2 linked regions of the Homo sapiens genome follow. The protein of the gene in region 1 purifies or fractionates together with the protein of each later gene. This does not show direct contact. Each region holds a gene or a part of one and is shown in the gene's direction. Other genes may lie near its edges.

What was found.
Region 2: the proteins of CCDC9 (region 1) and NCBP3 purify together in Homo sapiens (co-immunoprecipitation; 2 studies listed by BioGRID and IntAct, with this or other methods). This does not show direct contact.

The regions. Positions count from the first base shown.
Region 1 is NC_000019.10:47,251,629-47,259,533, forward strand, and holds the start of CCDC9 (coiled-coil domain-containing protein 9), read left to right. Parts: upstream 1-4,896; 5' UTR 4,897-4,981; intron 4,982-5,868; exon of another isoform or gene 5,869-6,281; intron 6,282-6,701; 5' UTR 6,702-6,772; coding exon 6,773-6,775; intron 6,776-6,930; coding exon 6,931-7,035; exon of another isoform or gene 7,036-7,082; intron 7,083-7,905. UniProt on the Homo sapiens protein: Probable component of the exon junction complex (EJC), a multiprotein complex that associates immediately upstream of the exon-exon junction on mRNAs and serves as a positional landmark for the intron exon structure of genes and directs post-transcriptional processes in the cytoplasm such as mRNA export, nonsense-mediated mRNA decay (NMD) or translation.
Region 2 is NC_000017.11:3,808,230-3,815,253, reverse strand, and holds part of NCBP3 (nuclear cap-binding protein subunit 3), read left to right. Parts: intron 1-770; coding exon 771-932; intron 933-1,974; coding exon 1,975-2,210; 3' UTR 2,211-2,599; coding exon of another isoform or gene 2,600-2,708; 3' UTR 2,709-7,024. UniProt on the Homo sapiens protein: Associates with NCBP1/CBP80 to form an alternative cap-binding complex (CBC) which plays a key role in mRNA export. NCBP3 serves as adapter protein linking the capped RNAs (m7GpppG-capped RNA) to NCBP1/CBP80.

The DNA.
Region 1 (7,905 bases):
CCACGCCCGGCTAATTTTTTTTTGTTTTTTGTTTTTTGTTTTTGAGACAGTCTCACTCTGTCGTCGAGGCTGGAGTGCAGTAGCACTGTGTTGGCTCACTGCAACCTCCGTCTCCTGGGTTCAAGCAATTCTCCTGCCTCAGCCTCCCAAGCAGCTGGGACTACAGGCGTCCACCATGACGCCCGGATAGATTTTTCTTTTTTTTTTTTTTCTTGAGACGGAGTCTGGCTCTGTTGCCCAGGCTGGAGTGCAGTGGCGTGATTTCAGCTCACTGCAAGCTCCACCTCCTGGGTTCACGCCATTTTCCTGCCTCAGCCTCCCTGGTAGCTGGGACTACAGGTGCCCGCCACCATGCCCGGCTAATTTTTTTTACATTTTTAGCAGAGATGGGGTTTCACCATGTTGGCCAGGCTGGTCATGAACTCCTGACCTCAGGTGATCCACCCACCTCAGCCTCCCAAAGTGCCGTGATTACAGGTGTGAGCCACCGTGCCTGGCCACGCCTGGCTAATTTTGTGTGTGTGTGTGTGTACTTATTTTTTTGAGACAGTGTGTCGCTCTGTCACCCAGGCTAAAGTGCAGTGGCGGGATCTCAGCTCACTGCAACCTCTGCCTCCCAAATTCAAGCAATTCTTCTGCCTCAGCCTCCTGAGTAGCTGGGACTACAGGCGTGCACTGACACTCTTGGATAATTTTTTTTTTTTTGAGGTGGAGTCTTGCTCTGTCCCTCAGGCTGGATTGCAATGACGCGATCTCGGCTCACTGAAGCCTCCGCCTCCCGGGTTTAAACGACTCTCCTGCTTCAGCCTCCCAAGTAGCTGGGATTACAGGTGCACACCACCACACCTGGCTAATTTCTTTTTGCATGTGTGTAGTTTTAGTAGAGACGGGATTTCACCATGTTGGCCAGGCTGGTCTCGAACTCCTGACCTCAGATGATCCTCCTGCCTTGGCCTCCCAAAGTCCTGGGATTACAGACATGAGCCACCACGCCCAGCCGAGGCTGAGTCTTTATCTTGGGGACTGGCCTGGGCATTGGAAGGTGTTCAGGAGCAGCCCTGGCCTCTGTCCACTAGATGTCAAGAGGACCCTCTCTTGTGACAACCAGAAATGTCCCTAGTCATTGAGAAATGTCCTTTAGGGGGCAAAATTACCTCCATTGAGAACCACTGGATAAGAACACGGAGTTTGAGGATGCACAAAAGGGAGTGATGTGGCTGGAGAGGGCAGCAGCGGTGACACACACACCACTCAGGCTCCATCAAGTCAGCTCTCCCCAGGGTGCTCTGGGCAGCCTCTTTCTGTCAGAACAGTTGCCATAGTTTGAATGTGTCCGTCGAAGTTCATGTGTTGAAAACAGTCGGCAGGGCGCGGTAGCTCACGCCTGTAATCCCAGCACTTTGGAAGGCCGAGGCAGGTGGATCACGAGGTCAGGAGTTCAAGACCAGCCTGGTCAAAACGGTGAAACCCTGTCTCTACTAAAAATACAAAAAAAAGTAGCCAGACATGGTGGCAGATGCCTGTAATCCCAGCTACTCAGGAGGCTGAGGCAGCGAATTGCTTCAACCTGGGAGGCGGAGGTTGCAGTGAGGCGAGATTGCGCCATCGCACTCCAGCCTGGGCAAAAAGAGCAAAACCTGTCTTAGAAAAACAAACAAACAAACAAAATATATATATATATTTATACAAACACATACACACACATATATGGAGAGAGAGAGAGGTGGGGGTCCCACTATGTTGGCCAGGCTGACCTTGAGTGAGCTCCTGGCCTTAAATGATCCTCCCACCTCTGCCTCCCAAAGTGTTGGAATTACAGGCATGAGCCACTGTATTTGGCCTAATTTTTAATTTTTTTTGTGGAGACTAGGTCTCACTCTATTGCCCAGACTGGTTTCAAATTCCCGAGCTGAAGTGATCTGCCCACCTTGGCCTCCCAAAGTTCTGGGATTACAGGCATGAGTCACCGCACTGGCCTCAAGTGAATTTCGTTACATGCATAGATTGCTATTTGGACAATTATAAGAGGATTAAGTTTCATTGGTATCTCTGAAAGGCTGTGAACAGTAGCCTTAGAAATGGTAAGGAATTACCAGGTACTTCCACTTTCTATGTCTTAAATCACAAAATAAAATGACTGGCACTACAGGCAATCTGGTCTGTCCACTTATAACTGTCATTCACCTTAACTGAGGGTATTCTGTAGCATTCATCATCATTTGTCACAATACCTTTATTATTTATTTATTTATTCTGAGACAGAGTTTCACTCTTGTTGCCCAGGCTGGAGTGCAGTGGCTCAATCTTGGCTCACTGCAACCTCCATTTCCCAGGTTCAAGTGATTCTCCTGCCTCAGCCTCCCCAGTAGCAGGGGTTACAGGCGTGAGCCACAGCGCCTGGTCGGCTTGTCACACTAGCTTTATTATGTCTAAGTTTTGGTTAATGCTGTAACCTCCTGGACTCTGCAGCTATTCAGCTGCTGTTGCTTTGAGTATCTTCTAGTTTTGGGAATGCACCAAGCTCATTCACCACAGGGCCTTTGCATAGGTTGTGTCCTTGGCCTGCACAGGCAGCCTCTCACCCTCCGGCCTCTCCTGCCCCTCTTGCCAGGCATCTCCCACAGGTGCTGCTATTTCCCATTTACTTGTGTCTTCCCTTAGGAGGACAAGGATGGGGTCAGCTTTGTTCATCATCTCAGTTCCCCCACCAACTTTTCCTCCCAGCACGCAGCCTGGCAGTCAATGCTGATTTGGGAGAATGAACGACTGATTCTATCGGTTGAACGTTTATTTTATATATATATATATATATATATATATATATATATATATATATATATACTTTTTTTTTTTTTTTTTTTTTGAGACGGAGTCTCGCTCTGTCGCCCAGGCTGGAGTGCAGTGGCGTGATCTCGGCTCACTGCAAGCTCCGCCTCCCGGGTTCACGCCATTCTCCTGCCTCAGCCTCCCAAGTAGCTGGGACTACAGGCGCCCGCCACTACGCCCGGCTAATTTTTTGTATTTTTAGTAGAGACGGGGTTTCACCGTTTTAGCCGGGATGGTCTCGATCTCCTGACCTCGTGATCCGCCCGCCTCGGCCTCCCAAAGTGCTGGGATTACAGGCGTGAGCCACCGCGCCCGGCCTTATTTTATATTTTATGATTTCATTTACTTATTTATTTTCGATACGGAGTCTCACTTTGTCGCCCAGGCTGGAGTGCAGTGGCACGATCTTGCCTCACTGCAACCTCTGCCTCCCGGGTTCAAGCAATTCTCTATCTCAGCCTCCCAAGTAGCTGGGATTACAGGCATCTGCCACCATGCTTGGCTAAATTTTGTATTTTTAGTAAAGACGGGGTTTCACCATGTTAGCCAGGCTGGTCTCGAACTCCTGACCTTGTGATCCACCTGCCTCGGCCTCCCAAAGTGCTGGGATTACAGGCATGAGCCACTGCGCCTGGCCAGTTATTTATTTTTTTGAGACGTAGTCTTGCTCTGTCGCCCAGGCTGGAGTGCAATGGCACGATCTCAGCTCACTGCAACCTCTGCCTCCCGGGTTTAAGCGATTCTCCTGCTTCAGCCTGTAGCTGGGATTACAGGTGTTACAGGTGCCCGCCACCATGCCTGGCTAATTTTTGTATTTTTTAGTAGAGACAGGGTTTCACCACGTTGGTCAGGCTGGTCTCAAACTCCTGACCTCGGGTGATCCACCCGCCTCGGACTCCCAAAGTGCTGGGATTACAGGCGTGAGCCACGGCGCCCGGCCTATTTTATTTTGAGACGGAGTCTCTCGTTCTGTCGCCCAGGCTGCAGTGCAGTGGTGCAATCTCGGCTTACTGCAACCTCTGCCTCCCGGGTTCAAGCGATGCTCCTGCCTCAGCCTCCCAAGTAGCTGGGATTACAGGCGCCCGCCACCATGCCTGGCTAATTTTTGTATATGTATATTTTTTGAGACGGAGTCTCCCTGTGTCGCCCAGGCTAGAGTGCAGTGGAGCGATCTCGGCTCACTGCAAGCTCCGCCCCCGGGGTTCACGCCATTCTCCTGGCTCAGTCTCCGGAGTAGCTCGGACTACAGGCGCCCGCCACCACGCCGGGCTGATTTTTTTTGTATTTTTAGTAGAGACGGGGTTTCACCATGTTGGCAAGGATGGTCTCGAATTCCTGGCCTCAAGTGATCCGCCCTCCTCGGCCTCCCAAAGTGCTGGGATTACAAGCGTGAGCCACTGCGCCCAGCATTTTATTTTATTTTCGAGAAGGGGTCTGCTCTGTCGTCTAGGCTGCAGTGCGGTGGCATGATCTCGGCTCACTGCAACCTCTGCCTCCCCGGTTCAAGCGATTCTCCTGCTTCAGCCTCCCGAGTTGCTGGGATTACAGGCGCGCGCCACCACAACCGGCTAATTTTTTTTGTAGAGACGGGATTTCACAATGTTGGCCAGACTGATCTCGAACTTCTGACCTCAGGTGATCCGCCCGCCTCGGCCTCCCAAGGTGCTGGGATTACAAGTGTGAGCCACCGCCCACGGCCGGTAGAACATCTGAAGCTTCTAAAGCGAACTCTAAGGTTTCATTGGCACGAGGGGGCTCGAACCACGCCAGGCTTCCAGGCGTCAGTGCCCAGTGCTTGGCATCTACTGATAGAAACCAGGAATGAGGGGCTGGAGGCGGAAACAGCTTGAAGAAAGAGGTAGAGGCCAGGGAGTGAGGACGGTGTCTCCTTTTCCTGGAAGTTGGTAATTCAGGCAGAAGGAAGTTGGATGAGCTTGCGGAACACCCGGGGGGCCAGTCGGCCCCGCTCCCGCATCCATCGCGGAGGCGCGGCCCCTTTAAGGCTCCCGGAAACGGTCCCACAGGACCGGAAGTGACCCTCTTTATTTCCCTTCCTCACGTGGTGCAGGCAGGAAGTGACGCGCCTGGCCCGGGAGCTGCGGTCGCAGAGGCCGACGGAGCCGGAGTCGCGGACGCCGCGGGGTCTCCGGGACAGGTGACCTGGGGGAGGGGGCCGGGAGCGCGCCCAGAGAAGGCGGGGCCTGAAGCCCCACGTGGCGGGGAGTGCGAACAGGCCCGGGCGGGGTCGGAGTTCTCTGCGGGGGGCGGGGACAGGACGCCCACATGGGAAGCTGGAGGGGCGCTGGCGGGGCGGGCCGTTGGGTGGGTGGGCAGGGTCGGGGCGGGGCGTGGCCAGAGCCTGGGCCGGCGGCTGTGGGCGGGACCTAAAAGTTGTGGCTGGACTGTGGGCGGGGCCATAGTGTTGCTTGTTCAGCTGTGTGGCGGGGCTCGGACGCCGGGCGGAAGCTCTGTGGGCGGGGCCAGAAAGTTTTGCCTTACTGGAAGTGGGTCCAGATTCTTGGCCGGGACGTTGGGGGCGGACCCAGAGGCTGACGCAATGGCGGGGGCGGGGCCACAATGTAGTGGGGGAGCCAGGGGGCGGGGCCAGGGTGCTGGCGGGGAATGCTGGGGGTGGAGCCAGAAAGTTTCGTCTGAGCCACGGGCGCGGCCAGAGCGTTGGCCGGGAGGCGGGGAAGCGGGGAGTTGAGCCAGAACCCTGGGGAAGCCATGGGCGGGGCCAGATGCTGACGCAACGAGGTGTGGGAGGGAGTCAGGGGGCGTGTCCAGGAGGTTGGCCAGGCCAATCGGAGGCGGGGCCAGAGGGTTGACTGGGCAGGCCGGGGGCGGGGCTGGAATAATAATAAGAGATGGTAGGGGCGGGTGTAGGCTGTTGCCTGCGAGCCAGGAGGCGGGGAAAGAGCGTGGCTGGGAAAGTCGGGAGCGGGGCCACATTAATGGCCCATGGGTGGGGGCGGGGCCAGAAGTCTGGCGGGAAAGGCGGGGCCAGAAAGTTTTTTCCCGAGCCGTGGGCGGGGCCAGAGCGGTTTCCAGGATGTCGGGGACGTGGCCCTGGCATTCCCAGCCGGATTGAGGCTGGAGCTTTGCACAGAAAATCTGGGGCGGGCCTGGGTAGTTTTGTCCTTGTTGGGGCGGGTGGAGTATTCAGTGGGGCAAAACGCCAGTTCCAGGAAGCCTCGCCAGTGAGTTCTGGGCCTGTGTACAGAATCCTTTCGGGGGAGGCGGGAGGCTGTCGACCTTCCGTAGGGCGCTGGAGACGGGACTAGGACGTCCCTGAGGAAGGCGCGGGCTTGGAATGTTCTCTGAGAGCTTGGGCAGCCAATAAGAGTGGGGTTCGGACTTTCTTTGAGCGTGGGATTGGGAATGTTTCTGAACCTTACCTGGTGGAGCTAGAATATTCGCCTGGATATGAGAGGCACCAGGATGAGCACAGGGAGGTGGGTCTGGAACTTTCTTTTGCAGGCTGGTTGGAGGGGTTGTAGTTGGAACTCTCTTGAGATAGGGAACCCGGGCTAACACTCATACCACAGGGTGTGGCGGCTGGCCTAGAATCAGCCTTTGGAGGAGAGCAGTGTTGGATACTTAAGCAGTGGGTGGGGGCCAGAACATCCCCAAGGTGGGTTTGACTAGATCGTTTACATGGGAACTGGGTGAGTCCACAAAGATCATGAAAGGGCTGAGTCTGAATTTCTATGGAGAAGATGGAGGTGGCAGTTGAAAGGAGGGAGAGTGAGGGCTACAATTCTCTTGGGGTACAGGGTTTTTTGTGTATGGCTGTGAGGATCCCGCAGTATGTTAGAGGGTGAAGTAGGTTGGGGGGCCATTGGCCTTTGTCCTTTTTTTCCCTCTGTCCCCAGGAACCCTCAGTGCTGCGTCTAGATTCTGCAGGGGAGGTTTGCTGGGACCTTGGCTCCACGCAGCCAGCGAAATGGTGAGGCTGAAAAATGGGGTCTCTAGAATCTGAGTTTTGGGGAAGGGGGCTTGGGAGGATGGGATCCATAGGGGCAGACTCTCAGACCCTGGGGGAAAGTCCCTGGTATGGATGGAGGTTTTTCCTTCCATCCCTCAACTGCCTCCCGGTCTCAGGCAGCCACACTCGATTTGAAATCAAAGGAGGAGAAGGATGCTGAGTTGGACAAGAGGATCGAGGCTCTTCGGCGGAAGAATGAGGCCCTCATCCGGCGCTACCAGGTGCCCTAGCCCCGCCCTGGGAGACCCCATCCCCTCTCTTCCCCGCAGTGAGTTTTTCTCACCTCTCCCTTCCTTAAAACCTTTTCATGGCTCCCCATCACTGTCAGGATAAAGGCCAAAGGCCTTAGCCTGACATCCCTTCTTTCATTCCATTATTCATTCATTCATTCATTTGTTCACAAATATTCCCCAAGATCTTTACCAGCCCCAGTGCTGAGTGGTGCTGGGGATATAGCTGTGACTGAGACAGACCCAGGCCTGCCCCCTCCAGGGTCCACCGTCTAGTCAGGGAGACAGCCCTGTCCTCAGGGATGCCCCAGAGCAGACAAGTCTGGAATCAGGAAATTCAGGGGTCTGTGGGAGTCCAGAGGAGGCTCTTGACCCAGCCTTGGGGATATCAGGGAGGGCTTCCTGGAGGAGTGGACTCTGAGGCTTGAGTGGTGAGTAGACAATAGCCAGTTGAAAAGGCGAGGGGAACATGTTTCAGGCAGAAAGAACAGTTTGTGCAAATGTTGGAAGCAAGAGAGAGCTTGGAGCTTCAAGTTGGAGGGTTGGTTAGGAGAGAATTGACCTGGGCAGGTCAGCAGGGGCCAGGCTGTGCTAGGCCCTGAATGCCACCAGGATGAGTTTGGACTTTGTCCTGAGGGCACTGGGGAGCCAGGGAGAGCCTTGAGCAGGGGTGGGACCGGTCAGAACAGCTCTTTAGGAAGACGCCTCTGGGTGCTGTGCGGTGGTGGGTGCGAGGAGGTGATACTGGAGCCCAGAGACCAAGGAGGAAGCTGGGGCTGGAACCCTAGTGGGAGAGGAGGTACCTGGCTCAGGGCAGGGCTGTTGAGAGGGACTCAGTTACTGATGGGCAGTTCAGGGCAG
Region 2 (7,024 bases), on another chromosome or scaffold:
CCTGATCTTACATCTATTTTAGAAAGACAACTTGAGGGTGGAGTGGGGTGGGGTAGAGAGTTAAAAAAGTAACAAGAGCCTGAACTAGGTCGGTGGAGACAGAATGGATAAAGAACAGGATAGTCTTGTGAAGGAAGACTCAGTGCTAGGAAGTGTTGGAGGAAAGGAGCTCAGGTCTCAGTGACCAGAGACCAGGGTGCTGCTCTCTGAGAGAAGCTAAAGTGAGAGGAGACCTCGGCACAGGGCCTCACCAACGAATGTGTTTCTGTTGTTGCTGTGGTGGTTAGGGGGAACTCAAGAGGACAGGCCGATTTCTGGGGGGATTGAGGGAAAAACACATTTGATCCTTTGCCTTTTCCAGTCTCTTTATATTTACTGGTTAAATGTAATAAGTTTATTGGGAACTACTTGTATGTTCAAAGATTGTGCCTTCCACTTTCCAGGAGCTCACAGGATTTTTTGTTCGCTGAAACTTTTGTAAATTACTTAGTCTTCTTGATTCTGCTTAAAGAAAAAAAAAAAAAGGTTGTTTCTTCAGAAATATAGTTCTGGAGTAATCAGTTGAGGATTTTTCCTCTGACAGCCCCTATGTCCGAATTTTCCTAAGGAAATCCAGACTGATTACAAAGGAAGAATACTTAGCAGCCTGATTGTCAGGCCCTGTGTCCTCGGGGCAGGGGTTAGCGCCAGATCCGTTAGAGGTGTCAGGCGGCTGGTGCCGAGCATAAAGCACACACACGGTCACTGGTGCACTTTTTCTCTTTTTTCAGATATACGCCAGCGGTTAGGAAAAAGACCACATTCTCCGGAAAAGGCTTTTAGTAGTAACCCCGTCGTTCGGAGAGAGCCCTCTTCTGATGTGCATAGTAGGCTAGGTGTTCCCAGGCAGGATAGTAAAGGCCTCTACGCCGATACTCGGGAGAAGAAATCAGGTTGGTAACACTTAAAACGGATGGGAATGGGGATTCAGTGAGAGCAGAGGACAGTGGGTGTATTGGAGAAATACTTTCTTAGCAGAAGGCAAGAAACAGCCCACGCCAAATATAAGTGATTATTCCTTTTCCATTATAGTTATCGTCAGCATCAGCATCAGCATCATCCCAACAGTTAGGAACGCTTAGAAAATAGAAAAAAATAGCACACTCCTGGCTCTTTCTGTTTGGCACAAATCTTTTTAGTTTCATGTGAGCTATTCTGGTCTTTGCCCACATACAAATCCTAGTTTTTTCATACAGCATTTTATCGTAGTTGTTTGCCACATTTTATAATCTTTATAAATAAAACTTTTAGGCCAGGCATAGCGGCTCAACACCTGTAATCCCAGCAATTTGGGAGGCCGAGACGGGGGGATCACTTGAGGTCAGGAGTTCGAGACCAGCCTAACCAACATGGTGAAACCCTGTCTCTACTAAAAACACAAAAATGAGCCGGGCGTGGTGGTGGGCGCCTGCACCACTGCACTTCAGCCTGGGCAACAGCAAGACCTTGTCTCAAAAACAAAAACAAAAACAACTTTGAATTGCCTTATAATGTGGCCGTCTACAAAATTCTAAACACGTATTTCTCTATTGTTAAATTTTCATAAAATATATTTCAAAAATTAATGGAAGGGATCTGGGAGTGGCCTACTTCTGGCAGAATGGATTGGCACACAGGGTGGTGTCTCAGCAGGGAAGGGCAGGAGTAGGAGGAAACGGCCTCTCAGGTGATTCTGATGTGTCTGGTGACAGGGAGGGACCTGACCTGTCCCCCCACGGTGAGAATCCCGTGCTGGGTCCAGACCCTTCCGTTTGCGGGCAGGGGCTGCGGCCCGGGAAATGAGATTTTGCCTGCCCAAGGCTGCACTGTGGTGGCAGGCTCCACAGACTGCTGGCGTTTCCTGCACAGCAGGTGTTGGCAGTGCTGCTGCCCCCTCAGTGCTACCCTGGTTCTTAGCGCTGACTGCGAAAGTGAAATGCCATCTCATCCAAACAGGTAATTTATGGACTCGCCTAGGATCTGCACCCAAGACCAAAGAAAAGAATACGAAGAAAGTGGATCACAGGGCGCCTGGCGCTGAGGAAGACGACTCTGAGCTGCAAAGGGCATGGGGGGCTCTGATTAAGGAGAAAGAGCAGTCTCGCCAAAAGAAGAGCCGGTTAGATAACTTACCATCTCTCCAGATTGAAGTTAGTCGGGAAAGCAGCTCTGGTTCAGAGGCAGAGTCCTGATGCCCCTGGGGCCTATGGCAGCTGCCCTAAAGCCTGACATTCTTGCACAGGGTGGGGCGCGCAGTAGGAACCTCCCCCGCAGGAGCTGGCGCCCTCTCGCTCCTGCTCACACAGTCACCCTCCGCTCTTGCTACTTCGGCAAGACATCTTAAGAATGTGACACATTTTCAAGGGCATCTCTATCTTTCGCTGCAGAGTTGTAGTTCTGGGCCCTCGATTCCTTTCCCACCACCCCACAGGCTTTACCCTTTGAGAAAAAGGCAGCCCTCCAGATTTTGTAGACATTTTTCTTAATATTTTTAACATTGTGTCTTTTAAAAGAAATGTTTTACACAGTTCATCCAAAGAGCAGAGAACTGAACTTCTCACTATTGCCTTGGCCCTGACAGCTGTTACCAGCACCCTTTTCCCAAGAAAAGTCAATTCCCAGGTGCTTATTGGACATCCTTCGAGGGGGAAGAGGAGGGAAGCGGCCAGCTCACCCTTCCGGGACCCTAGTGTGGGGCGAATCTCACGGACCTGACCTCAGAGGTGCACCAGTGCCGCCCAGGTAGATAAGAGCTGCAGCATTGACTGTGCTTCCGTTCTTCCCTCGGGGATTGCTCATGGCATGGGCCTCTTACGTGCTGTCAGCTTGATGTGAAGATCAAGTTCAGTGCTGTGGGATTTTTAGGAACAAAAAACTGTGACGTCTGGATTTGGGGTTGATTTTTGTGCTGGGGTGGGATTATGGGTCAATGTTGAAGAATTTTTAAGTCTGTATTATGTTTAAAACATGAATGATTTGAAAGTTTAAATTTTTAATTTTTATATGTGGAAATTCTTCCTGTTGGCTAAAGGGGAAGCTCAAGTGGTGTCGTCTTTTGTGCTGTTAAATATATATTCTATTCTTTGGAAGAAGGCAGAGAGAGGAGTCTTATTATTTTTAAATGCTCCTAGTTGTATAGTCTGTCTGTTGTACATAGAGTTCAGCTTGTTTTTTGGCTCCAGTAGGAAAAAAAATCCATCCATCTGAGATGGGGTCCTGTTGTTTATTATCACTCTAGAAGTTATACATTGATATTTATTCTTTCTGTCCCCACGTTGTGGCACCTGAAGACATCTTCAAAATTGGCAGAAAAGATAATAGTTATAAAAATTTTAGTTCATTTATTTTTAAACTCCTTTCAGATTATTTTACCATTAGGAGGAGGTAGATTGTTTCGTCTTCCTGTCTGATTTTTGTTTTGTAGTATTTAATTTTGTATTCCTCTGCAGTTTTAAGAAACAGTGTTTTTCTTCGGTTTGCTGGAACATGGGCGTTAGAGATGGTAATAAACCGTGGTCCTTTTTGCGATGTCACGACTCTTCACCTGCCTGGGCTGTTGTGCACACAGTGCAGCCTGGATCCTGTCGATCTTTACTTGTGGCGGAGCTAATGGTCACATTGATAGTTGATTACACTGTGGCACGAATTAATGCAGAACACTGTTATTAATAAAGGAAGTAAAGGGCTGCAAGATTTGAGAGCTGCAACAAAAACTGTATTGTCCCATATTTTGTTGATTAACCTTGCTTTTTCTCCCTCCCTTTAGAGAGATTAGAGGATATAACCATGATATATTTCAGCTTCTTATTAGGATTCTAGGAAAGAGATGGTTCTGGTTTCTCTGCCAGTTGAGACTTAAGACATCTGAGATTTCTCAGCTTTTCTTTCCCTGTGAAGCATACAGCTGAGAGCCAGGTTCTTAGGAAGGGTCAGGGTTTGGGGAGTTGGTAGAGTGAGGAGTGCGGGGGCCTGAGAATCGGACACCTGGATGCCAACCCCTGGCTCTGCTCCATGGACCTGGGCCTCAGTTTTCCCGTCTAGCAGTTGAGTGGGCTGTTACCAGAATTCCTGGCTTTGTTGGTGCATCTCAGTGGCGGTTTACTCTTCCCAAGCTGTGACGGCAGTGGGCTCGCCAGCATGAATTTCTACTGCAGGTGGAGGAGGCGCCAGGGAGACAACTGAGGGCGCGCATGAGGTGTAGACAGGGGCTTATTCCCATCCCAGCACAGTCTCTGCTTCTACTGACGGGGCAAAGATGTCTTGTGGTCAGCGTCCCAGCTGGCATGCCTCTGCAGGGTTTAGAATATGCTCCTTCACAGACTTTCCTTTTGGTTTTACACCAGCAGCTCAGGTCCATTTGTTCCACGGCCTTTCAGCACTCAGCAGTCTCCTGCTACAGATCAGCGAAGCCATTCTGGAAGGAGGTGGTGTGCAGTCAAAACTGGGTCTTTGATGTAACCAAGAGAAATACACACTCGAGTAACCTTACAGTTTTCACAGACACACAGAGAGAACCCAGAAAGGCAGCTTTAAAGATTTTTACTTCTCGGAGTTACTGGCCTTATTAGTTTCTCTAACCCTCCTGCCCACTCTCAGTCACTCAGATCTTGCAACATCTTGAGTGTGTCCTGAATGATGAGGCCTTTTCTTTGGAGTTTAAGAGTAAGAATGGATAGTCAGGACAGGCCCGTGGCAGGCAGCTGGGCGTGATTTTACCCTGGACACTCCCCACACATGTGGGCACAGGGCTGCACACTTTGTGTGTTCCTCTTAGTCTTATGTGTAGGAGATTTTACATACATGTTTGCTGCTTGATGATAATTGCAGATACCTCATTTGTTTCCCACTCTCCTCTCTGGAGAGTTACCAGGTACCCAGGATAATTTGTGGCGTCCTCAGGATGTAGTCTCCTCCTCTGGCCCCCTTGTAGTCTGATCCTGTGAACCCCTCTCCGTTCTTCAGCCACTGCCCTTTCCAGCTGCATTTGTACAGCAGCCTCTTCACTGGTCTCTGCCCTGTCTCCATTCTGCACACTGCAGCGGGATGAACCTTTGTTGTTGTTACCAGCTTAATTTAGATGTAATTTGCATACAGTTCAGCCATTTAAAGTGTACACTTGAGTGGCTTTTAGTATATTTACAGTTATGCACCAGCACCGTAATCAATTTTAAAACACTTTGATCACCCAAAGAAACCCTGAGTCCATTAGCAATTCTCCCTATTCCCTCTTCCCTCTTAGCCTCTGGCCACCACTGATCTTCCTTCTCTCTCTGTGGATTTGCCTGTTCTGGATAGTTCATATAAATGGGATCATATACTATGTGTCTATTTGTGACTGGCTTCTTAACATATTTCTGAGGTTCATCCATGTCATAGCTTCTATCAGTATTTCATTTTTTAAAATTGCCAAATAATAGTCCATTTTATGGGTATGCCACCTTTTTTTTAATCCACATTGGTTAATGGGCATTTGAGTTGTTTCTACTTTAGGGCTATATATATATATTTCTATTTCTATTATTTATTTTTGAGACACAGTTTCGCTCTTGTTGTGCAGGCTGGAGTGCAATGGCACGATCTCGGCCCACTGCAACCTCCACCTCCGGGGTTCAAGCGATTCTCCTGCCTCAGCCTCCAGAGTAGCTGGGATTACAGGCATGTGCCACCACGCTGGCTAATTTTTTGTATTTTTAGTAGAGACAGGGTTTCACCATGTTGGTCAGGCTGGTCTCGAACTCCTGACCTCAGGTGATCTGCCCACCTCTTCCTCCCAAAGTTCTGGGATTACAGGTGTGAGCCACTGCACCTGGCCCTACTTTTTGGCTATTATGAATAGTGTTGCTACGAACATTCCCGAACAAGTTTTTGCAGGGACAGGTATTTTCATGACTCTTGGGTATATACCTAGGAGTGGAATTGCTGAGTCATAATTATCTTTAACCTTTTCAGGAACCACCAGGTGGTTTTTCCAAGCAGCTGTATCATTTTCCATTCCACCAGCAGTGTGCGAGGGTTCCAGTTTCTCCACATCTCCACCAACACTCATTATTTTCTGGTGTGAAGTGGTATCTCATTGTAGTTTTTTGTTTTTATTTTTTCTTTTTAAAATACATTTTGTACAGATGGGGTTTCGTTATGTTGCCCAGGCCGTCTAGCACTCCTGGCCTCAAGTGATCCTCCTGCCTTGACCTCCCAAAGTGCCGAGATTACAGGCATGAGCCACCACGCCTGGCTCTCATTGTGGTTTTGATTTGTATTTCCCTAATGACTAATGATGTCGGGCACCTTTTCACATGCTTCAGGATGAACTTTCTTAAATATATATCTGATTCTGTTATTCCTCTGCTTGAACGTTTTCCAAAGCTTCACTATTGCCCCGAGAATAAATTCCACACTCCTGATCGCATGAGCCCAGTAATTCAAGGCTGTGGTGAGCTATGATCAAGCCACTGCACTCCAGCCTGGGCAGCAGAGCAAGACCTGTCTCAAAAAATACATACATACATAAATTCCACCCTTTTTGATAGCATGTTATGAGGCTCACCAAGGTCTATCCTCTGGCAGTATCCCTGGCCTGTTCTCCCCATCTCCCCTGCCCTCTGCTCACCAGTTCCCTAAATGTATCTTGATCTCACTAGCCCTACAGACTGTGCACAGAGCTGTTTCTACCTCCAGTGACATGCTTCCGCCCAGGCTTCTCCCCCTCCCGCCTCAATCTTCCCCTCACCAACTTAAGGTCTTAGGGGCCCTTCTAGGAGGCAGTCCCCAACTTCCAGAGCCAGGGTATAGGCTACTTCTATGTGTCCCATGGTACTGCCACAGAAGAGTCTCAGCTCTCTCCAGGATTCAGTTCTAAGGTCAGTGCCTAAGATAAAAATGGAGTGTAATTAAAATTCCTCTTAGAAATCTAAGGAAGGTGCCCTATTGAAGACCAACATCTTGAGGTCCCATGTAGTCATTTCTTGCCCATGTGGGAACACATTACTGTTTGGTTGAGTACCAGGTG